3 separate regions of the Homo sapiens genome follow, and all the other regions are linked to region 3. Evidence: fine-mapped expression QTL. A gene starts in region 3. Each other region holds a variant in brackets. All regions are shown on one strand. Distances are between the middles of the regions. Region 1 overlaps RAB1B (RAB1B, member RAS oncogene family). Region 2 has its middle 14 kb from the start of EIF1AD. Region 3 holds the start of CATSPER1 (cation channel sperm associated 1).

What was found. PIP is the estimated chance that this variant, and not a neighbour inherited with it, causes the effect.
Region 1: its variant is fine-mapped to the expression of CATSPER1 in whole blood (TOPMed, PIP above 0.99).
Region 2: its variant is fine-mapped to the expression of CATSPER1 in whole blood (INTERVAL, PIP 0.96).

Annotation. Positions count from the first base shown.
Region 1 is chr11:66,269,788-66,277,787 of GRCh38, forward strand. It overlaps RAB1B (RAB1B, member RAS oncogene family), which reads left to right. Exons shown (of 6, transcript NM_030981.3): 2 at 2,010-2,082; 3 at 2,370-2,465; 4 at 2,578-2,673; 5 at 6,017-6,148; 6 at 6,257-7,705. The coding sequence ends at 6,451. It overlaps LOC107984340 (a long non-coding RNA gene), which reads right to left. Exons shown (of 2, transcript XR_001748274.1): 2 at 2,370-2,805. Among named protein-coding and RNA genes, the nearest start is that of CNIH2, 4.4 kb to the right of the region's middle. RefSeq lists an enhancer at 2,099-3,298. The variant G/A (reference allele first, on the strand shown) is at 4,640.
Region 2 is chr11:65,984,071-65,992,334 of GRCh38, forward strand. It overlaps the pseudogene LOC100420020. Among named protein-coding and RNA genes, the nearest start is that of EIF1AD, 14 kb to the right of the region's middle. RefSeq lists an enhancer at 5,292-5,361. The variant G/T (reference allele first, on the strand shown) is at 3,270.
Region 3 is chr11:66,022,088-66,030,304 of GRCh38, forward strand. CATSPER1 (cation channel sperm associated 1) reads right to left here and starts at 4,392. Exons shown (of 12, transcript NM_053054.4): 1 at 3,077-4,392; 2 at 762-974. The coding sequence starts at 4,292. RefSeq lists an enhancer at 563-1,064.

The DNA.
Region 1 (8,000 bases), 250 kb after region 3:
TAAATGAGATGATGCATTTAAAGTACTTCACACAGGGTCCGTCCACAGGTTGGAACTCAAGTATATTAAATGTGATTACCTTTTGCCTTTTTTTTTTTTTATTTTGAGACAGGGTCTCTCTCTGTCACCCAGGCTGGAGTGCAGTGGCGTGACGATGGCTCACTGCAGTCTCCAACTCTTGGGCTGAAGCAGTCCTCCTGCCTTGTCCTCCTGAGTAGCTGGGAATACAGAGGCACACCACCACACCTGGCACATTTTTTAATTTTTTGTAAAGACAGGGTCTCGATATGTTTCCCAGCCTGATCTCAAACTCCTGGGCTTAAATGATTCTCGTGCCTCGGGCTTCCAAAGTGTTGGGATTACAGGTGTCAGTCACTGCACCCAGCCTTAAGTGCAATTTTCACTGCAACTTGACCACCTCTTCCTGGTGACTTCATAACAGGTTTTTGTTGTTGTTGTTGTTGTTGTTGTTGTTGTTGTTGTTGTTGTTGTCTCCAAAGAGATGGGGTTAGCCGGGTGCGGTGGCTCAGGCCTGTAATCCCAGGACTTTGGGAGGCCGAGGTGGGTGGATCACGAGGTCAGGAGATCGAGACCATCCTGGCCAACATGGTGAAATCCCGTCTCTACTAAAAATACAAAAATTAGCTAGTCATGGTGGCGCATGCCTGTAATCCCAGCCACTCTGGAGGGTGAGACAGGAGAATCACTTGAACCAGGGAGTCGGACGTTGCAGTGAGCCGAGATCGTGCCACTGCACTCCAGCCTGGTGAGAGAGCGAGACTCTGTCTCGAAAAAACAAAAGAAAAGAGAGACGGGGTTGTGCTGCATCACCCAGGCTGGTCATACACTCCTAGGCTCCAAGGATCCTCCTCCTGTTTCAGCCTCCCCAGTAGCTGGAACCACAGGCACACGCCACAGCACCCAGCCATCAGTCTCTCTACGTGGGTTTTCAACTTAATAGGTTCTAGGCTGGGCCCTGGCTTCTACTTCTGGGGCCTTCTCTGCCAAGCTAGGCACACGCAGGGCATGTACTGGGGATTCCCTAAATAGCTCCTACTGGACCAAACCATGAAGTTTCAGAAATCAGGTTAGGATACCCAGCTCTGTTGCCTTGGCAGGTCACGTGTCTTGATTTCTTTCTCCATAAAGTGAGAATTTAGACTCAGCAAGCTGAGAGCCCTTTGGGCTAGCTGTTTGTGGAGGGAGGCATCAGCCCTCCCTGACCGGGACTGTTGGGAAGATCTGGTGAGCACCATAGTATTCTAAACCAAGGGATGGCCAGGCGCAGTGGCTCACCCCTGTAATCCCAGCACTTTCAGAGGCCAAGGCAGGTGAATCAATTGAACCCGGGAGTTTGAGACCAGCCTGGGCAACATAGTGAGACCCCATCTCTACAAAAAATGAAAAGATTAGCCAGGGGCCGGGTGTGGTGGCTCACACCTGTAATCCCAGCACTTTGGGAGGCCAAGGCAGGTGGATCACCTGAGGTCAGGAGTTCGAGACCAGCCTGGCCAACATGGTGAAACCCTGTCTCTACTAAAAATACAAAACTTAGACAAGCATGGTGGCAGGTGCCTGTAATCCCAGCTACTCGGGAGGCCGAGGCAGGAGAATTGCTTGAACCCGGCAGACAGAGGTTGCAGTGAGCCAAGATCGCGCCATTGCACTCCAGCCTGGGCAACAAGAGCAAAACTCAGTCTCAAAAAAAAAAAAAAAAAAAAAAAAAATTAGCTAGAAGTGGTGGTGGTGGTGGACACCTGAAGTCCCAGCTACGCAGGAAGCTGAGGTGGGAAGATCACTTTGAGCCCGCAAGGTAGAGGCTGCAATGAGCCGTGATCACTTCAGTGCACTGTAGCCTGGGTGACAGAGTGAGACCTTATTGCTAAAAAAAAAATAAAAATAAACCAAGGGATGCCTCATGGGGTGGGGGAATCCTGTAATTGTGACTCCAGGATGATGGTAGGTGGGCTCCCTGCCTCCCTTCACGCCTTCCCATCTTCTCTCTCCAGTGACTACCTGTTTAAGCTGCTTTTGATTGGCGACTCAGGCGTGGGCAAGTCATGCCTGCTCCTGCGGTTTGCTGTGAGTAAGAAGCCTCCCATACCATCCACCTGGGGTCCTGACTGGCAGCTGGGGGGAGAAGGGACAACACAGAGCACAGTAGTTGCAAGATCTGGGAACCAGGGGTGAAGCTGTAAGACCTGCCACCAGCACATCTGCCCTGAACAAGACAGGGCTGGCCAGCTGAGTGCTGGGAATTGGGGCTTGGTGGTTCGGAGACCCAGCTGGGGCAGGGAACTGGAGGGAGGCTCTCCAAGTGGGCCTCACCTCATTAACTCCCATGATTTCATTGGCCCCTGAACTTTCAGGATGACACGTACACAGAGAGCTACATCAGCACCATCGGGGTGGACTTCAAGATCCGAACCATCGAGCTGGATGGCAAAACTATCAAACTTCAGATCGTGAGTGTCGCTCTTCCCAAAATCCCCAGTACAGAGGTATCCACCTTGGGAGGGAAGGGACTCTGGGACTCTGGACCTCAGCTGACCTGCTCCTCTGCCTACTGTCTCCTAGTGGGACACAGCGGGCCAGGAACGGTTCCGGACCATCACTTCCAGCTACTACCGGGGGGCTCATGGCATCATCGTGGTGTATGACGTCACTGACCAGGTACTCCTGGACTAGCCATCCTCAGCTTGGCCTCCTTAGCCTTAGGTCTTTGACTCTTCTTTTTCCTCCTTCCATCCTCTCTTTCCTGATGCTTCCTGGAAAGGACACTATTTGTCTGCTTACAGGAACTAACTAGGAAAAAGAAAAAAAATAGGTGACTGTACTTGGACTCATTTCACAAGGAGGGAAACAGCCACAGAAATGGATCCTCTGAAGGCCCTGCTGCAGGTTCTGGCAGGACAAGGCCTCACACCTTCCCTCCCCACCAAGCCAAACTTGCCACCTTATTGTAGACCTTCTGGGCACCTTTGTGTTGTGGGAGTTTAGTCAGGCGGTTGGCTGCTATGCTGGGCCTGTGGCTTCCTGTGTGAAGACACAGTGCAGGGGGACAATTAGAGGGCCTTAGACAAAGAAGCAGGGAAGCTTGAGCTCTGGGCCCAATGTGAGCAGAGATCCAGAAGCTCTGCCTCCAGCAGCAGCGTTAGTCCCATGTGACTAGCAGTGGTGGTAGCAAGGGCTGGAAATGGTTCCATGAAACCTTATAGTTTACAGAACCTGGCCCAGCCCTCAGATTGCCTCTGATGCTCAGAAGAGGTCTGTGTTCCCATCGCACAGGTAAGGAGCTGGGCTCAGGATGGTGAGGTGACTTGCCGAGGGTCCTTCAGCTAGTCCGGTGGCAGAGGCAGAAAGCCTGGATGGCTCATTCCACCTGCTTTGTTTTTTCTACCAAATGTTGTTGCTTAACAGGGCCAATCCCTGAAGATAAGGAGAAGCTTAAATCAGCCGTGGGCCGGGAAGAGTCCCTGTCTGAGGAGCAGCCGGGCTCTTTAGCTCACCAGGGACTCATGATGTCCCCAGCTCTGGACGAGCTGTGGGGAAGCTACATACCACCCAGACAAGTTACCAGGGCCCACCTGACTGCCATATATCCAGTGATCTTATTTCAGCACATTGACCTCTCGTGGCTTTGGACACTGCTCTCTTCTCTCTCCTTGAAAAGTGGACCATCCCCCGCTCCTCAGTCTCCTGCAGCACTCGATTCTCTATTGTCAGTGTCTATTTGCTGGTCTGTCCAGTGCTGCCTCCCATCACCCTGTGTTTGGTGCTTCCCCACTGCCCTGGACTCTCCTCCTTACTCTTGTGCATGGCTGCGGCCACTCTGTGGTTTGCTTCTGCCTTGTGTTCTGTGATTCCTGCATCTAACAGCCGTGGCTGTGGCTTCCCTCCTCTGTCCATGTCTACACTGGCACTTTGTGTCTGTATTAATCCTGATCTTCATGATCTTCTCTAGTAAACTAAATGGTGAGGTTTGTGTTTTCTAGATGAGGAAACTTGCTTGGAGAGGTGTTAAGTAACTTGCCACCGGTCTCACGGGAAGGGCAAAGCCAGTTTTGGAGGGCTCTTGGCTTTTGAGCACACCCTTTCCCACCCTCAAGCAGCCTCTGCAGAACTCAGATGTCCAGCGCTGGCCTCACTGTCTCTCCCCAAACCAGCGCCTCTATCCCCATTTTTAATATTTTTATTTATTTTAAGACATGGGGTCTCACTCTGTCACCCAGACTGCAGTGCAGTGGTGTGATCATAGCTCATTGTAACCTCAACCTCCTGGGCTTAAGGGATCCTCCTGCTTCAGTCTCCTAAGTCACTGGGACTATAGACACACACCACCATGCCCCAGCTGCATCCCCATCTTTGTGACACAATCCTTGTCAGCCTGACCAGAAAACTCTTCCCTCCCCCATCCAGTCAGTCTCGAGTCCCCTCTATTCTCTCCCCATCATCTTTCTGAAATCTGTCCCCTCATAATAATAGCAGTGATGAGGATAATAGCAGCTCTTGCCAATTAAGCACTTGTTATGAGACAAGCCTGTGTTCATTCTCTTCATGCTCACAATCAGCCCTTCTAGGAGGTACTGTTTATAGAAATGAGGAAACTGAGGCTCAGAGTGGTCAGGTAACATACCTG[G/A]GGTCACACAGTAAATGGCTGAGCCAGGCCTTCAGCAGCAGTGGTCTGACTAAATCCTGTGTGCTTCCCTGGCTCAGTGCACGTTCTCTTCCCTGAGTTATTCCAGCCATTCCCAGTTGGTCTCTATCTTGCTATTCTGATCTGGGCTCTGCCTCCTGTCAGGACTAGCATAGGTGTGATCCTGTTGCTTCTGGCCTAAGAAACGCCCACTGGCTCCTGGTCTAAGTCCAAGACTTAGCCATGCTAAGACAGTCTGTGCTCTGGCCTCTCCCCAATCCCCCCTCTTTCCTCCCCTCTTCCCCCTCTCCCCTCTTGCCTTTCTCCTCCCCACTCCCCCATTCCCCCTCCCTGTCCCCCCTCCCTGTTGAGTGTCTGCATCCCAGCAACATTCCATTTCCTCCCATTCCCCAGACACACCATGCCCCTCCCGTTCAGTGACCTGGCACATGCTGGCTCCCCAGCTGGCACCTCTCCTGCACAAGGCCAGTTCCCACCTGCAGGCTTAGGTCCACTGTTGCTCCCACCTCAAGCAGAGGTGGTCTGGGGGCTCCCCAGCCCCTGCCTTCTAACCTGTTTTGCCCTTGTGTGTGGCCTGGTCTATTCATCTACTGTCCCGTGAATGTGTTAGGGCAGGGCCCAAGTATGATTTCCCCCTTTGTCCCCAGCACTTAGCACAGGACCCAACTTGGAACATGGCAAGAGGTCTAAGTTTGAGCCAGTGTGATATGACCAGGCTTCTGGCTCCTAAGGAGTATAAGTGGCCCTAGCTTGAGCACTTTCCTGAAAGTCCTGTCCTTTGTGTGTGGGGTAGGGGCGCAAGTGCTGGGAGAGTCTGAAGCCAAGTAATGAGGCTGTTGGTGCCAAAAGTAGGATGAATTTTAGGCTGTTCCCAGGATTCCTGTCTCCCCACAGGCCAGGGCCACCTCTGAGAGGACCCTCGAACTCCTGTGCTCCAAGGCTTCAAACCTTAAAGGGATTTTCAGGCCACGGTGGGAACTGTGGCTCTTGCGGACCCGTTACTCTCTGTTCCTATCTCCCGTCCGCTCTCTCTTTGCTTCTCACATGTGGTTAGGGCCTGCAAGTGTCTCAGGGAGAGAGACAGCTGCAGGGAGCAGAGCTGGCAGGCCCAAGTTGGGGCAGCTGTTGAGGTGTTGGGGCAGCTGGCAGGCTGCTGGGGCTGTTCTGGGTCTCGGATGGAAGAGGGCAGGGAGGAAGGTTCAGCCTGGAGCAGAGGGCTTCCTCTGCATCTCTGCATCGCTGAGCCCAGGACTTAAGGGGCCCGGAGCTGTACTGTTCCCCTCAGAGAAGGTCTTCTCCAGGCCTGGGGTAGGGGTGACAGTTGGGAGCAAAATAACTTTGGCCCCTGGCCCCCTTTAGGAATCCTACGCCAACGTGAAGCAGTGGCTGCAGGAGATTGACCGCTATGCCAGCGAGAACGTCAATAAGCTCCTGGTGGGCAACAAGAGCGACCTCACCACCAAGAAGGTGGTGGACAACACCACAGCCAAGGTAGCAGACGGGCCGGTCTGCCCGGGGTCGGGGCGCTGGGGCCTGCTGCCCCTCACCTGCTCTCCCCTCCTCTTCTCTCCCCTCCTCTTCTCTCCTCTCCCTTGTCAGGAGTTTGCAGACTCTCTGGGCATCCCCTTCTTGGAGACGAGCGCCAAGAATGCCACCAATGTCGAGCAGGCGTTCATGACCATGGCTGCTGAAATCAAAAAGCGGATGGGGCCTGGAGCAGCCTCTGGGGGCGAGCGGCCCAATCTCAAGATCGACAGCACCCCTGTAAAGCCGGCTGGCGGTGGCTGTTGCTAGGAGGGGCACATGGAGTGGGACAGGAGGGGGCACCTTCTCCAGATGATGTCCCTGGAGGGGGCAGGAGGTACCTCCCTCTCCCTCTCCTGGGGCATTTGAGTCTGTGGCTTTGGGGTGTCCTGGGCTCCCCATCTCCTTCTGGCCCATCTGCCTGCTGCCCTGAGCCCCGGTTCTGTCAGGGTCCCTAAGGGAGGACACTCAGGGCCTGTGGCCAGGCAGGGCGGAGGCCTGCTGTGCTGTTGCCTCTAGGTGACTTTCCAAGATGCCCCCCTACACACCTTTCTTTGGAACGAGGGCTCTTCTGTCGGTGTCCCTCCCACCCCCATGTATGCTGCACTGGGTTCTCTCCTTCTTCTTCCTGCTGTCCTGCCCAAGAACTGAGGGTCTCCCCGGCCTCTACTGCCCTGGCTGCAGTCAGTGCCCAGGGCGAGGAATGTGGCCAGGGGATCCAGGACCTGGGATCCAGGGCCCTGGGCTGGACCTCAGGACAGGCATGGAGGCCACAGGGGCCCAGCAGCCCACCCTTTCCTCTCCCCACTGCCTCCTCTCCCTTCCTACACTCCCAGCTCGAGCCGTCCAGCTGCGGTGGGATCTGAGTATATCTAGGGCGGGTGGGCGGGTAGCAGTGCTGGGCCTGTGTCTTGAGCCTGGAGGGAGTCTGCTCCTGCCGCCCTCTGCCCTGCCAGAGACAGACCCATGCGCTGCCTGCCCACCGTGCCCCTTTGTCCCCATGTCAGGCGGAGGCGGAAGGCCCACCGTGCCAGAGGCTGGGCACCAGCCTTAACCCTCACTCTGCTAGCACCTCCTCCCTTTCCCCAAGGTAGCACATCTGGCTCACTCCCCACTCCGTCTCTGGAGCCCACCAGGGAAGGCCCTCATCCCCTGCCGCTACTTCTCTGGGGAATGTGGGTTCCATCCAGGATTGGGGGCCTCTCTGCTCACCCACTCTGCACCCAGGATCCTAGTCCCCTGCCCTCTGGCACAGCTGCTTCCTGCAAGAAAGCAAGTCTTTGGTCTCCCTGAGAAGCCATGTCCCTCGTGCTGTCTCTTGCCTGTCCCACCTGTGCCCTGCCCTCCAGCTTGTATTTAAGTCCCTGGGCTGCCCCCTTGGGGTGCCCCCCGCTCCCAGGTTCCCCTCTGGTGTCATGTCAGGCATTTTGCAAGGAAAAGCCACTTGGGGAAAGATGGAAAAGGACAAAAAAAATTAATAAATTTCCATTGGCCCTCGGGTGAGCTGAGGGTTTTTGCAAGGAAGTTGTGGTGGCCAAGTGTGGTCTGTGGTCTAAGCCCAGCCTTGGGGTGGGGGGATGGAACTGGAACCCTGGGCTTGGTGGGGTGCACGGGGGTCCTGGCTTGGTTTCTGTGTCCTAAGGCTGCTGGCAAAAGCCCTTGACCCCGTTTCCTGAGGCCAGGAAAGCTGCTTGTGCTTCTGTGGTCTGTCCCCAAGGGCCCAGCACCGTTCTGTCAGGGAAAGAGGCAGGCGGCCATCAGCTCATACCTGGCGTGCCGCCGCCAACTCCCGCGGGGCACACGGCAGAGGTGTGGGGTC
Region 2 (8,264 bases), 38 kb before region 3:
TCGGGTGCATTCTGGATTGGAGCAGCTTTGTTGCAGGTACTGCATTGACTACAAGCTGATGAGTTCTGCCTTCCACCTTGATGAGCAGTGGGCACTCTCACTCCCCAGGCTGGTCAGGGTGAGTAGGGGGCTGGGTGTACCTCATAGAAGGGGGTATGCCTGGGGTGGGGCAGGTTTACTGGCTTCACTCAATGGTACAAAGGGGGTCAGCATCTCTGGGCCCAGCCCCACTCCCATCCCACCCTACTAAATCATTGCCAAGGGAAGCCTCTCCATCTGCGGCCACCACTAGCAGGTCACCAGCCTAGTAATATCCTTTTTACTTTTTTTAAGACAAGGTCTCACTGTGTCGCCCAGGCTGGAGTACAGTGGTACAAACATGGCTAGCTGCAGCCTTGACCTCCTGGCTCAAGTGATCCACCCACGTCAGCTTCCTGAGTAGCTGGGACCACAGCTGCATGCTATCATGTCTGGCTAATTTTTTTGCAAAGACAGGGTCTTGCTATGTTGCCCAGGCTGGTCTCAAAATTCCTGGGCTCAAGCAATTCTCCTGCCTCAGCTTCCCGAAGTGCTGGGATTGCAGTACTAGCCACACCCAGCCGATAGTAGGTTTTAGCAAAAGGATTCAGTTCAGGCAACTGCACCCATTGCAGTTCTGGCCATGAGCCACCACACCCAACCAGAATTATTTCAAAAGATTTTAAGATAGAATATTTTGACCTCACATCCCTAGTAGGATATCTATTTAAAAATTTTTAAATTAACATAATGAAATCTTAAACACATTTAATAGTCTTATTGTTAGTAATAATAATGATGATATTGGCTGGGCATGGTGACTCGTGCATGTAATCACAGCACTTTGGGAGGCCGAGGCAGGAGGATTGCTTGAGGCTAGGAGCTGGAGACCAGCCTGGGCAACATTGCGAGATCCCCATCTCTACAAAAAATTTAAAAATCAGCCAGGCATGGTGGCATGCACCTGCAGTCCCAGCTACTCAGGAGGTTGAGGCAGGAGGAGTTGGAGACTGCAGTGTTCTAGGATCATGCATTGCACTCCAGGCTGGACGACAGAGCAAGACCCTGTCTCAGAAAAAAACCAAAAAATACAAAGAAAAGAAAACTGAAGCTGTGTAACAGGTACAATGGGATTCATTATTCCATTCTATCTACTTTTGAGTATGTTTGAAAATTTCCATTATAGAACTTTGTTTAAAAAGAGAGAACAAGAACATGTTGGCTTAGCAACAGAAAAGCATACATATGTTCAGCTAAAGACATGAACAAGAATGTTCTTAACAGCACTATTTATAACAGCCCCAAACTGGAAACAACCCAAATGTCCATTAACAGAAGAATGAATAAATAGCCGGGCATGGTTCTTAGTGCCTGTAATCCCAGCTACTGGGGAGGCTAAGGATCCCTTGAGGCCAGGAGTTCAAGACCAGCCTGGTGACATAGTGAGACCCACCTCTAAAAATATTTTTTAAATTTAGCTGGGTGTGGTGGCTCATGCCTGTATCTGTAGTCCCAGCTACCCGGGAGGCTGAGGCAAAGGATTGCTTGAGCCTGGGAATTTGAGGCTGCAGTGAGCTATCCTCACACTTGTGAATGGCCACTGCACCCCAGCCTGGGTGACAGAGTGAGACTCTGTCTCTAAAAAAAAAATCAACAAAGGGTAGACATTCATATAACCGAATGAGTAACATGGATGAACCTCATGGACATGAAATTATACATACTGTTTGCTTCCATTTAATACAAAATCTGGAAAAATTCTTTTATTCTATTAGAAGCAGTATAGAAGGCTGGGTGCGGTCACTCATGCCTGTAATTCCAACACTTTTGGAGGCCAAGGTGGGAGGATTGCTTGAAGCCAGGAGTTCTAGAGCAGTCTGGGTAACAAAGCAAGACCCTGTCTCTACAAAAAAATTTTAAAAATTACCTGGGCATGGTGGTGTGTGCCAATAGTCCCAGCTACTCAGGAGGCTGAGGCACAAGAATCACTTTAACCTGGGAGGTGGAGGTTGCAGTGAGCCGAGATGGTGCCATTGCACTCCAGCCTGGGTGACTGAGTGAGGCTCTGTCAAAAAAAAAAGCATCGTTTTAAATAATGACATAAATATAAAAAATGGCCAGCATGGCTGGGCGCAATGTCTCACGCCTGTAATCCCAGCACTTTGGGAGGCTGAGGCGGGCGGATCCCGAGGTCAGGACATCGAGACCATCCTGGCTAACACAGTGAAAACCCATCCCTACTAAAACTACAAAAAATTAGCCGGGTGTGGTGGCGGGTGCCTGTAGTCCCAGCTACTCGGGAGGCTGAGGCAGGAGAATGCCGTGAACCCGGGAGGTGGAGCTTGCAGTGAGCCGAGATCGCGCCACTGCACTCCAGCCTGGGCGACAGAGCGAGACTCCGTCTCCAAAAGAAAAAAAAAAAAAAAAAAAAGGCCAGCATGAGAATGAGTGAAAGTTCATAAACTCTTCCTATGGTGACTCACATATGGCATAAGGAACTAGCTCACTGGTTTTGCCTTCTCCTTCCTCTCTTCTGTAAGGTTCTTCATTTCCCAGGCCTGTAACTTGCTGTCTTCCCACTACGGTGCCTTCTAATAAAGAGCTTCCAAAACTAAAAACAACGTAAATCTTTGCTGCGGTTATTTTTTGACGCATCAAAAAAGGCACCAAGCCTAGATGTTTTTAAAGCTTCAAAAGTTTATTGACCGGCACCATGGCTCACACCTTTAATCCCAGCACTTTTGGAGGCCAAGGTGGGCGGATCACCTGAGGTCAGGAGTTCAAGACCAGCCTGGCCAACATGGCGAAACCCTGTCTCTACTAAAAATACAAAAATTAGCCGGGAATGGTGGCAGGTACCTGTAATCCTAGTTACTCAGGAGGCTGAGGCAGGAGAATTGCTTGGGGCCTGGGAGGCGGAGGCTACAGTGAACTGAGATGGTGCCATTGTATTCCAGCCTGGGTGACAGAGTGAGACTCCGTCAAAAAAAAAAAAAAAAGGTTATTATCTAAAGGCTTTACCTTTAGATAATAGATCATTCAAATGCTATTTAAACTACTCCAGATCAGAGAAAAAGATGGTAAGCGCTCTTAACATATTTTATGATATTAATAAAATACTGATAGCCAAATCTTCTCATTGTTTCTGAAGTTTGTTTTCTAGAAGTTCCTTCTGTCTGCTGGTGATAAACTCCTATATTCTGTTGGTCTGAATGTCTTCACCATGGTGTAGGGAGGAGACAGCCGTCGTG[G/T]CCCCCAGGGCTGTGGTGAGAATCAAAGCTGTCCTGCCTTGGGCATGTCTCCAAAGCCCAAACACACTGGGAAGACGGAGTTGGCCCCACTCAGGGTCTCCACTCAGATCAGGCTGGGTCCCACTTCCCTCTCCCTGAGCCCCGGACACATCGATGCTGTCATTGCATGCTGATTCTCCGAGTCCCTGAGCCCCGTACCCCCCGGCCTTAAGGAGCCTTGCCAGTGTCCTCCCCACCTCGCCCCTGCCCAACAGACACAGCACGCCACCTGCTCTGCCTTGGGTCCCAGGCCTTTCCCTCCTCAGGCACCTGTTCAGGGGCAGTGAGAGAAGCAAAACAGCCCTTCTGTGCCAATGCACACCCCACCTGGGGAAGGAGGCAGACAGGAGGGCTCCTCAGAAACGGCTGATTTGTCAGCCCTGGACAAAGTGAAAGGGAGAAGCAAGAAGCAGGACAGATGGGCAGGTCTCCTGCGGCCCACCCCCCCAAAAAAGGAATGTGTGGGCCGGGCGCAGTGTCTCACGCCTGTAATCCCAGCACTTTGGGAGGCTGAGGCGGGTGGATCACCTGAGGTCAGGAGTTCAAGACCAGCCTGACCAACATGGAGAAACCCCGTCTCTACTAAAAATACAAAAAATTAGGCAGGCGTGGTGGCAGGTGCCTGTAATCCCGGCTACTCAGGAGGCTGGGGCAGGAGAATCTCTTGAACCCAGGAGCCAGAGGTTCCAGTGAGCCGAGATCACGAAGCAAGGAAGGAAGGGAGGGCGCGAGGAAGGAAAGATGTGGCCATAGATCGTGAGTAGGATCGATAAGACAGAACTCCATTGTCGAAAGCTAAATTATGGCAGACACAAAGCGGATGGGAGACCCACATGAAAGAAGGCACTTGGAGCCTTCAGAGAAGAACGCAGGGAGGCAAAACCCCCAAAGGCCTGAAAGCTTCAGCAGTCACTAGAAGGGGAGCTGAATACATGTGCTGAGGGGCCCTGGGGAGACGACCCTTCCAGAGGCTGCAGTTCTTAGGTCTTACCAGCCCCTCCTTGCTGCCCATCTACCAGGTCCAAGGCTCCCTGAATCCTCAGACATTAACTACAGGGGTACCTCATCCTTGTCCAGAGCAGGGTTTCTGGGGGACACAGCCACAGACACCTCCATGTGAGTCCTCCTGCACCTCAATTTGGGTGCTTTCTAACTGAAAGACCAGGGCGGCCAGGCGCGGTGGTTCACGCCTGTAATCCCAAAACTTTGGGAGGCCAAGGCGGGCAGATCGCCTGAGGTCGGGAGTTCAAGACCAGCCTGACCAACATGGAGAAACCCCATCTCTACTAAAAATACAAAATTAGCCAGGCGTGGTGGTGCGTGCCTGTAATCCCAGCTACTTGGGAGGCTGAGGCAGGAGAATCGCTTGAATCCAGTAGGCGGAGGTTGCGGTGAGCCAAGATCGCGCCAGTGCACTCCAGCCTGGGCAAGAAAAGTGAAACTGGGTCCCCCAAAAAACAAAAAAACCAGGGCAGTTCCCCACCACCCTCCAAGCACTGTACTCCAGCTTGTAAATGCTGCTGGGGAGGAAGGCCACTTCTGATCATGCCTTGGTGAGTGAATCCATCTCTGGGGGAGTGGAACTTGTGTTCGCAGTGGTCTACCAGCATCCTAACTGCTGTTGGGGCATGTGGACCCTTTGATTGGACCAAGAATGCAGTTCCCTTATGAGACTGTAACTAGGTTAGATGCTTTCGGGTTCTGTAGCCCAAGGCAAGGTGCTGACTTGCTGGTTTTACGTGCTTAGGGTGACCTCTGCTGGTGGCTTCTCTAAATGTTGGCAGAATACACAGCCAGGAACTGCCGGTACCGTCTCACATCAGCCAGTAGTTGGAGCCACATTGCTATCAGAAGGAAAAGAGTGCTCTTCTCATACAAGAATTATTAAAACAAAGTGATGCCCAATGCTGTTCAAGAATGAACAGCCTGGTCTGGTTAGTAACAAAGGATTCTGGTACTTGGCAACTCATTGTGGATTAGCAAGGGTTAAATAACAAAGTGGGTATTTTAGCGTCATGAGAATCTATCACAATAACTGGAAGAATTGCTGCCAGTACTGGCACCTGGTGTACAGCCCTGGGCACTGCTAGTTCTTTTTTTTTTTTTTTTTGGTTGGAGTCTTGCTCTTGCCCAGGCCGGAGTACAGTGGCGCCATCTCGGCTCACTGCAACCTCTGCCTCCCCTCCTGGGTTCAAGCGATTCTCCTATCTCAGCCTCCCAAGTAGCTGGGATGACAGGCGTGCACCACCACACCCAGCTAATTTTTGTATTTTTTTAGTAGAGACAGGGTTTCACCAGTTGGCCGGGCTGGTCTCGAACTCCTGATCTCAGGTGATCCACCTGCCTTGGCCTCCCAAAGTGCTGGGATTACAAGCGTGAGCTACCGCGCCCAGCCTGTACTGCTAATTCTTCATTCCTCAGTGTCACCAGATGAGGCATACGGCATGCCTCCACACCTCCCACAGGGGCTTTTGGATTCTCTTGCAAATGTCACCAGTGGATCAAACACACGCACAGCATGAACTGCTGGTGGTGTCCGTGGTGTCCTGACTTCTTGCTTCATCAGTGATTTTCTGAGGGCGGCTCCCACTGAGGAAACTGCCCACACTTCTCTGTGTGCTTCTCAGACACAGGTCAGTAGAGATGTTTGGGCCTTGAATGAAGACAAAACCCACGGTTCTGTGGCCCAAGTCACTTTCCTGGGAGACAACTGGGCAACTACTAAAGACGAAGCACCAGGCCGGGCACGGTGGCTCACCACCTGTCATCCCAGCACTGTGGGAGGCCAAGGCGGGTGGATCACCTGAGGGCAGGAGTTCGAGACCAGCCTGGCCAACATGGTGAAATCCCATCTCTACTAAAAATACAAAAAAAATTAGCTGGGTGTGGTGGTGCAGGCCTGTAATCCCAGCTACTCGGGAGGCTGAGGCAGGAGAATTGCTTGAACCCTGGATGCGGAGGTTGCAGTGGGCTGAGATCGTACAATTGCACTCCAGCCTGGGCGACAAGAGCGAGACTCCATCTCAAAAAGTAAGTAAGTAAGTAAATAAATAAATAAATAAAAATAAATAAAAATAAAGCAAACCATGTAAAAAGAAAAAAAGTGCACATGGAATTCGGACAATGGTTGCCTTGGGTGGGACAGCAGAGAATGGGCTGGTCAGGGTAGGATGGGAGGTGGAGTATGTTACTTGGGTTATTGTTAAAGTCCTAGCCTTTATTTTATGGTGGTGGGTTTGAAGCTGCTCACATTATTAAAAATAACCAACCAAATATTTAATTATTCTTGACTTTTAATTTTTTATTGAAAGGGAGTCTCACTATGTCACCCAGGCTGGCCTCAAACTCCTCAAGGGCTTAAGCAATCCTTTCCCTTCAGCCTTTCAAGTAGCTGGGATTACAGGCATGTGCCACCATGCCCAGCCAAAATGTTTAAATATAGGCCAGACTCAGTGGCTTACGCCTGTAATCCCAGCATTTTGGGAGGCCGAGGCGGGTGGATCACCTGAGGTCAGGAGTTCGAGACCAGCCTGGTCAACATGCTGAAACCCCGTCTCTACTAAAATATAAAAATTAGCCAGGCGTGGTGGTGGGCGCCTGTAATCCCAGCTACTCAGGAGGCTGAGGCAGAAGAATGGCTTGAACCTGTGAGGCACAGGTTGCAGTGAGCTGAGATTGCACCACTGCACTCCAGCCTGGGTGACAGAGCAAGACTCCATCTCAGAAACAAAACAAAACAAAACAAAACAAAGAAAGGAAAAAGAAAAAGAACTACAGGATAAACCCAGAGGGATTGGTTTGTTTCCCATTGGTTATGAGAAAAAAACAAAAACAAACAAAAACAAAGGGAGTATAAGTGGGAAATACGGTAAGAGCAGCAATTAATGAAATACCAATACAAAGAATGACAACAAAAAGCTGGTGCTTAGAAAAGACTAATAATGACCTTCTGCCAAGATTGACCAGCTATAACAGAGAGAAGGCACAAATAAACAATATTACATGTAAAAAGGGGGACATAACTTTGGATACAGCCAAGATTACAAACATAAGGCAATCATACAAATAACTTTGCGCCAGTAAGTTTGAAGCCATAGCAAACATGAGAAAATATGGGGGCTGGGTGTGGTGGCTCACGCCTGTAACCCCAGCAATTTGGGAGGCTGCGGTGGGCAGATCACCTGAGATCGGGAGTTTGAGACCAGCCTGGCCAACATGGTGAAACCCCATCTCTACTAAAAATACAAAAATTAGCCGGCCATGGTGGCACATACCTGTAATCCCAGCTATTCGGGAGGCTGAGGCAGGAGAATCACTTGAACCCGGGAGGCGGAGGTTGCAGTGAGCCGAGATGGGGCCACTGCACTCCAGCCTGGGCGACAGAGCAAGATCCTGTCTCAAAAATAAATAAATAAATAAATAACATGAAAATATTTTTCCTTGAAAATATGACTGAAGAACAGAACACCTGAGTAATCTATTACCACTGACAATCTAATTCCAAACCTACCTACCCACCCACCCAAAAAATCGCCAGGCATGGTTGGTTTTACAGCAAGCTTTACCAAAAATTGTAGAAATGCAAAATTCCAATCTTATACAAACTCTCGTAATGAAAATAAAGGGAAAACACTTTCCAACTTATTTATATGAAGCTGGTATAACCTTGATACAAAACAAAGGGTGGGGGCAGTACGGAAAAGGAAAACCTTAAACCATTTCACCTATACACCTGGATGCCAAAATACCAGAGAACCAAATCCGGCAGTATAATAACAAATCCATTGTGACTGTCTTCTTCCAGGAATGCAAGGATATCTTAACGTGAGAGAATGTTATGATACTCCACCACATTTACAGATTAGAAGAGGAAAACCATGTGGTGAGCTCAGACTGCCATCTGTGCTCCCTGGCACACACACAGGGGTGGCTGGGTGGCAAGGGGGGAAAGCGCAC
Region 3 (8,217 bases):
CCAGCACATTGGGAGGTTGAGGCGGGCGCATCACTGGAGGTCAGGAGTTCGAGACCAGCCTGGCCAACATGGTGAAACCCTGTTTCTACCAAAAATACAAAAATTAGCTGGGCATGGTGGTGGGCACCTGTAGTCCCAGCTACTTGGGAGGCTGAGGCAGGAGAATCACTTGAACCCGGGAGGCGGAGGTTGCAGTGAGATCGCGCCACTGCACTCCAGCCTGGGTGACAGAGCCAGACTCCGTCTAAAATAAAATAAAATAAAATGGGGATAATTGAAGTCCACTTGATAGAGTTGTGAGCGTTAAATGCATGAACACAAGCGAAGTGCTTAGAATGGAGCCTGAGACAGCGAGCCGGGCAGCTCCTGTCCTTCACCCTGCTCCACGGCGTTGGAGGGCCCAGCCTTCCCCGACCTTACATCCTCGCCCCTCCAGGGCCTTCTCGGGCTCCCGGCCCTTCCGCGAAGCTCGGGCTCCAGGCGCCCGCCCGCCCTCAGCCGCACATTTGGAGCAGATGCGCTCCCTAGTGGCTGCGGCGCGAACAGCACCGCCTCCCGCCTAGCGGGTCCTTCTGTCTCGGGCCGGCCTCAGCGGGGTCTTTCTGAGACGCTCTCTAATACTGGGTAAGGCCATCTACTTCCCAGGGGTGAGGATCAAGTGAGCTGAGTCCTATAAACCGCCCGGCACTGGATCAGGCCCACGGAGGTCCTGGAAGAGCATCGGTGGCTTCTCCATGGGAACAGGACTCCCTGGCTCTTACCGCCCCGGATCTCGACTTCAGCGAAGGTCTGGGCCACCAGCATGACGGTGTTGAGGCAGACAACGAAGAAGATGAAAGTTTCAAAGGCCAAGGATTGGGTCAGGTTCCGGATCATTTCCCGGAAGCCCTGAATGAGGAAGGTTAGCTTTTCCCACAGCCACTGGAAGAGATTGGTAGAGTGTCCCTTCTTGCGGGTCCGCTGGAGCCGGCCGGCTGAAAGGAACAGGGCCAGAAAGTCAAGTGTGTGCAAGAGGGGACACGAGGTCCCAGGCACCCCCCAGCCTGGCTCAGCGTCCATGGTCACTCCTGCCTGCTTGCTGGCCCTCTGCCTCCCGGGTTCAAGCAACTCTTGTGCCTCAGCCTCCCAAGTAGCTGGGACTGCAGGTGCCTGCCACCACGCCCGGCTAATTTTTGTATTTTTGGTAGAAACAGGGTTTCAACATGTTGGCCAGGCTGGTCTCGAACTCCTGGCCTCCAGGGCTTCCACCACGTAGATGCAGAAGAATATGGAGTCCAAGGCCATGAAGTACCACTCTGCAGGGACACAGGGGTGCGCTCAGGGCTGTCCCCAGCACCCAGTGCCCTCTCTCTCCTCAGCATGAGCCTCACACAAGCCCGGATTCCCAGGCTCTCTCCAGCTCTGGGTAAGCAGCTGCGCGACTTCACTACTGCTCTATGTCTCAGTTTTGTTGTCTTTAAAATGGGCATAATTGTGGCCAGAAGCAATGGCTCACACCTGTAATCCCAGCACTTTGGGAGGTTGAGGCAGGCGGATCACTGGAGGCCAGGAGTTTGAGACCAGCCTGGCCAGCAAATCCCCAACAGGCTGGTCCTGTGCCTTCTGTGGCAGGGGCCAGCCTGTTGGGGATTTGGAGTTGGCTTCTGGGGATCCTGAGGGCTCCCACTCCTATGCCTCCATGCCTTTCTTTGCTCACGTGGCAACTTACATATGGAAAACCCACCCTCCTCATCATCCCATCCTCTTGGTAAACTTATCCTCTCCCTTTCAGGTCCTGATGAAATGTTCCCTCCTCTGGGCTGCCTTTCCTGTCCCCATTTAATAACACACTTGCCCCTCTCTGCTTGTTCCTGAGACTGTTGTCATATTTTGTTTGTTGTTGTTGTTGTTTTCTGAGATGGAGTCTCGCTCTGTTGCCCAGGCTGGAGTGCAGTATCGTGATCTCGGCTCACTACAACCTCCGCCTCCCAGCTTCAAGAGATTCTCCTGCCTCACCCTCCTGTGTAGCCAGGATTACAGGCACGCACCACCACACCCGGCTAATTTTTGTATTTTTTTGGTAGAGACAGGGTTTTGCCATATTGGCCAGGCTGGTCTCCAACTCCTGACCTCAAGCAATCTACCTACCTTGGACTCCCAAAATGTTAGGATTACAGATGTGAGCCATCGCACCCAGCCTATTTGTTTTTTTTTTTTTTTTTTTTTTTTCCTACGGAGTCTTGCACTGTCACCCCGGCCGGAGTGCAGTGGCACGATCTCGGCTCACTGCAACCTCTGCCTCCTGGGTTCAAGCGATTCTCCTGCCTCAGCCTCCCAAGTAGCTGGGATTACAGGGGTGCACCACCACGCCCAGCTAATTTTTGTATTTTTTTGGTAAAGACGGGATCTCGCCATGTTGGCCAGGCTGGTCTTGAACTCCTGACCTCAAGCGATCCACCCACCTCGGCCTCCCAAAGTGCTGAGATTACAGGCGTGAGTCACCGCGCCTGGCCTGTTGTCATGTTTATTGAACTACTAGGAAGAAAGTTTGGTGGCGTATGAGCTAAAGGCCATGGTCCCTCCTTGCCCTCCAATAAGGCCCTCATTCAGGCATTAGTTCCTAATCTCTGTTCTCAAGCAGCTCACAGGTGAGTGGGAGAAATCTGGACAGATAGAATCCACCATGGTAAATGTTCTGAGGGCAGGCCCCGAGCACAGGATGATCTGTGGTCAGCTAAGTGACCACTCCTAGTTTTGGGCCCCTCGAGGGCAGCGACTGTGTTGAATTTTTCCCCATGCTGCCATGGCCCAGGCAGGCCACACACCCACATTGGATGAGTATCAATGTTTGACTGGTAGACATATGAATAAATAAGGCAGTGACTGAATGAACAAACACCTCATGGCCTAAAGAGGTACATAATTCAAGGAATAAAAGATGGGACCATGAACAGTCAGGAGAGTGAATAGCCAGTGGGGGACCTGTGCAGGAGGGTCGGGCCTTACGATCTGCGGAAGGACAGTGCGGGGCCGAGATCAGGTCTGGATCCTGCGCCAGGCAGCAGGAGTTGGCATGGGGGGCCCAGCAAAGACTCACTTTTGCGTTTCTGAAATTGCCCTTCTTCTTTGCCCCAGTCTTCTGAATGTTTGGTGGAGATATCCTGGGTATGGACTTTTTTGGACATCTGGGTGACACGTGAGCGGATTGTGCTGGAGGACCGAGTCATGCTGTGAGCCGAGCCCCGTGGGTGTGCTACGTGATAGGGGAAGACTCCTGTACGAGAAGCAGCAGGGCCGGGGGCATCGTGAATCAGGCTCCGGGATGTGTGTGGGATAGAGAGTTGGGAAGTGCTCTGGACGTAGTCGCCATGGAGGTAACTGGAATGATACGCGCCGTGGTGGTCTTGGTGCTGATGGTAGTCTCGGTGCCGGTGGGTCTGGTGGTAGTGGTGCTGTGTGTGGTGGGGATGGTCGCCATGGTGGTACTCACTGGGGTGGTGATCACCTTGGTGGTACTCGCTGTGATAGTCAGATATCCCACGCTGGTAGGACCCCACAGAGGAATGAGGGGAAATGGTCTCTCCGTGATGAGGAGACTTTCCATGCTGGTGGGCTTCATGATGACGGGACCTGCCATGGTGGTGGACTTGGTGATGGTGGGGCCAGCCACGGTGGGGGACTTGGTGATGCTGGGACTCATCGTGTTGGAGCCCGCTAAGGTGGGAAGCCTCGCTGTGGTGGAAGGACTCACTGTAGGGATTGGGTCCATGGGGGAGGTAGGACCCACCATGGTGGGAAGCCTCACCGTGGTGGGGCACGCCAGAGGAATAGTGGGATAAATTCTCACCGAGATATTGGGGTCTGCCATGGTGAGACCCCCTATGGTAATGGGAGTCACTCTGCTGATGGAACCCACCGTATTGGGACCCATCATGATGCCTCCTGCCATCACGTTGGAGCTCATCATGGTAGTCCTCACCGTAGGAACGGTGGGAGGGGACGGCGCCTTGAGAGGGAGCCAGACCAAAGCCTGTGGGGCCATGGGCTCTGCCGTGATTCCGTGCCTCGCTGTGGTGGTGAGATTGGTGGACATGGGAGGACAAGGCTTGGTCGTGGAAGTCTTGGAACTCCGGAGGGTGGTGAGATTCACCACGTTGGTGGGGCACGCCGTGATGGTGCAACTCGTAATGGTGGAGAGCTCTGCTGTGGCCTGGCCTGTGGTGTGGGGGTGATGAGTGAGAGCGAAAGAACCTATCTGCGTTATTGGTGTCTGCCTCATTCTGAGCCTTTTCAGGCACTGAGTTTTGATCCATGACTGTGCTGGGAACTCTGGAGCCAAAAGAGCTCAAGACCTGGGCCCAACAGGCCCCGCCTGGATTTCCCTTCTTTCCTGAGCCAAGCTCAATGCAGACTGTGGCACTGGGCTTCCAGAAAGGCCTGACTATTCTCGTGGAACTCTCCCCTCTATGATGTCACCAGCAGGCCAGGGCCTCATTCCCAAATGCCTCTTCCTGGGCTATAGTTCGGAATCAAGAATTATTGTGTCAAACTCCTTCATTGTAAATGAGGAAACCGAGGTCAAGAAAAGGGAAGGACTAGACCAAGGTGACCTCACAGGTCACTGGCAAAGCTGGACAAAGAAGTCCATGGGGGCGCCATGGCTTCATCAGCTACTTTAGCCCTGTTGTTGGAAAGAAAATGGTCCAAGTGGTCCAGTCTTCAGTCCCATCTAGAGATCAGCTGGCTCTGGGGTGAAGACTGCCTGACTCCCTCATAAGTAGGTGTGTGACCTTGGGCTTGTTGCTGAACTTTCCCGTGCCTCAGTTTCTTCCTCTGTAAAATGGGAATAATAATACCTAGCCCACAGGATCAAAAAAGTTAAGATATGTAAGCCTTATATTAACAGCATAATACATGGTTTTTGTTGTTGTTGTTGTTGTTTGTTTCTTTGTTTGTTTTTGAGATGGAGTCTCGCTCTGTCGCCCAGGCTGGAGTGCAGTGGCACGATCTTGACTCACTGCAACCTCCACCTCCCAGCTTCATGCCATTTTCCTGCCTCAGCCTCCCAAGTAGCTGGGACTACAGGCGCCCACCACCACGCCCGGCTAACTTTTTCTATTTTTAGTAGAGACGGGGTTTCACCATGTTAGCCAGAATGGTCTTGATCTCCTGACCTCGTGATCCGCCTGCCTTGCCCTTCCAAAGTGTTGGGATTACAGGTGTGAGCCACTGCGCCCAGCCCATGTTTTTTTGTTTTTGTTTTTGTTTTTTGAGACAGTCTCACTGTCACCCAGGCTGGAGTGCAGCGGCATGATCTCCACTCATGGCAATCTCTGCCTCCCAGGTTCAAGTGAGCCTCCTGCCTTAGCCCCCTGAGTAGCTGGGATTACAGCCACCCACCACCATACCCCACCCCGGCTAATTTTTTTTTTTTTTTTTTTGAGACAGAGTCTTACTCTGTCACTAGGCTGGAGTGCCGGGGTGCAATCTTGGCTCACTGCAATCTCTGCCTCCTGGGTTCAGGCAATTCTCCTGCCTCAGCTTTCCTAGTAGCTGCGACTACAGGTGCACACCACACCCAGCTAATTTTTGTATTTTTAGTAGAGACGGGGTTTCACCATGTTGACGAGGCTGCTCTTGAACTCCTGACCTCAAATGATCCACCCACCTCGCACTCCCTAAGTGCTGGGATTTCAGGTGTGAGCCACCATGCCTGGCCAATACATGTTAATTGGCATTATTATTCTCTTCTTGATCTTGGAACCCCCCTTTAGGGTTATTACCAAAATTAAACTATCAGCCATCATTTATTGAGGATTGCTTCATACACATTTTGTTTTCTTTCTTTCTTTTTTTTTTTTTGAGACACAGTCTTGCTCTGTCACCTAGGGTGGAGTGCAGTGGCATGGTCTCAGCTCACAGCAACCTCCACCTCCTGAATTCAAGCAATTCTCCTGCCTCAGTCTCCCAAGTAGCTGAAAGTACAGGCGTGCACCACTACGCCCAGCTAACTTCTTTTGTATTTTAGTAGAGATGGGGTTTCACCCTGTTGGTCAGGCTGGTCTCGAACTCCTGATCTCAAACGATCTGCCCGCCTCGACAACCCAAAGTGCTGGGATTACAGGCATGCGCCACCGTGCCCGGCCCATACACATTAAATTTAATCCTCACAATAGCCCCACATGGTAGATATTGTTTATCCCCATTTGACAGACAAAGGTGCTATGGCTCAGAGAATATAAATGAGTTGCTTGATGAATGAAAACTTACCGTCAGTGCTATCTCACTCCAAGTCTGTATCTGTAACCTTCATGCTGTCCTGTCTTCCTCCTGGAATCCACTGCAGAGCTTGCCCTGTATGCTGAATTCATATGTGCACAGCGCAGCTCTTCTGGAAGCTTATGGGTCTCAGCTTCTTGAGTGCTTGGTCAGAGCCATGTCCATAGTGGCTGCTGGGTTCCCAGTGATGAAAGAGACACGGCTCCTGTTTTAAGGAGCTCACTATCTGTTGCCAGCAGCAGACAAAGAAACAATTTGTGTGGGCTGGGCATGGTGGCTCACACCTGTAATCCCAGCACTTTGGGAGGCCAAGGCGGGTGGATCGCCTGAGCTCAGGAGTTTGAGACCAGCCTGGGCAACATGGTGAAACCCTGTCTCTACTAAAATACAAAAAATTAGCTGGATGTGGTGGTGTGCGCCTGTAGTCCCAGCTGCTTGGGAACTTGGGAGGCTGAGGCATGAGAATTGCTTGAGCCCAGGAGGCGGAGGTTGCAGTGAGCTGAGATCACACCATTCCAACAAGAGCGAAACTCCATCTCAAAAAAAAAAAAGAAAGAAAGAAAGAAAAAGAGAAGACTCTACCCTGAGAGAGAACAACAACCTCACATGTTGATGACATGATCTCTGATACTGAACAGGTTTTCGTTTTTGTTTTCTTGATAATAAACTGAAAAACAACTTGCTTTTTTTTTTTTTTTTTTTTGAGACAGAGTCTCCCTCTGTCGCCCAGGCTGGAGTGCAGTGGCGCGATCTTGGCTCACTGCAATGCCGCCTCCTGGGTTCACGCCATTCTCCTGCCTCAGCCTCCCGAGTAGCTGGGACTACAGAAGCCCGCCACCACGCCCGGCTAATTTTTTGTATATTTAGTAGAGATGGGGTTTCACCATGTTAGCCAGGATGGTCTTGATCTCCTGACCTCGTGATCCGCCCGCCTCAGCCTCCCAAAGTGCTGGGATTACAGGCGTGAGCCACCACACCCGGCCACAACATAATCTTTATCCTGGCTGATGAGTCAACTTATTTCACCAATAAAATGGTGAATGCTTACCACGCCATAGCACTAGTAAGATCTGTAAATGGTCAGCATGATCATCGAGAAAATGTTTCAGCTTTTCCAAACAAACAAAAAGCCAAGATAGATTTAATGTCATTTCATATCAGGAATCATCAAAAAGTCTGTCTTGGAAGAACTACCTTGGCATTTATACTGATGGTTCAAATCAGTGGTTAGCTCCATAAGAATTTTTACTGTTCTTGGAAAGAAACAAAACCACAAACAAAAACTTGATGTTGTCACAACACACTGCTTTCTTCACAGAGAGGCACTGGTGTCAGAAACTCTTGGAGATGAAAAGTAATGATGGAGCAAAACGTTTGCCTTTATTCAACAAAGACTCACTCACTTGAAAATGTTTTAAAAACTGGCCAGGCAGGCTGGGCGCAGTGGCTCATGCCTGTAATCCTAGCACTTTGGGAGGCCGAGGTGGGTGGATCAGGAGGTCAGGAGATCAAGACCATCCTGGCTAACACAGTGAAACCCCATCTCTACTAAAAATGCAAAAAATTAGCCGGGCGTGGTGGCGGGCGCCTGTAGTCCCAGTTACTTGGGAGGCTGAGGCAGGAGAATGGCGTGAACCCGGGAGGCGGAGCTTGCAGTGAGCCGAGATGGCGCCACTGCACTCCAGCCTGGGTAACAGAGCGAGACTCCGTCTCAAAAAAATATATAAAATAAAATTTAAAAAATGTGGCCAGGCAGGCTGGGCGTGGTGGCTCACGACTGTAATCCCAGAACTTTGGGAGGCTGAGGCAGGAGGATCACCTGAGGTCAGGAGTTCGAGACCAGTCTGGCCAACATGGTGAAACCCTGTCTCTACTAAAAATACAAAAATTAGCTGGGTGTGGTGGCGGGTGCCTCTAATCCCAGCTACTTGGGAGGCCAAGGTGGGAGAATCGCTTGAT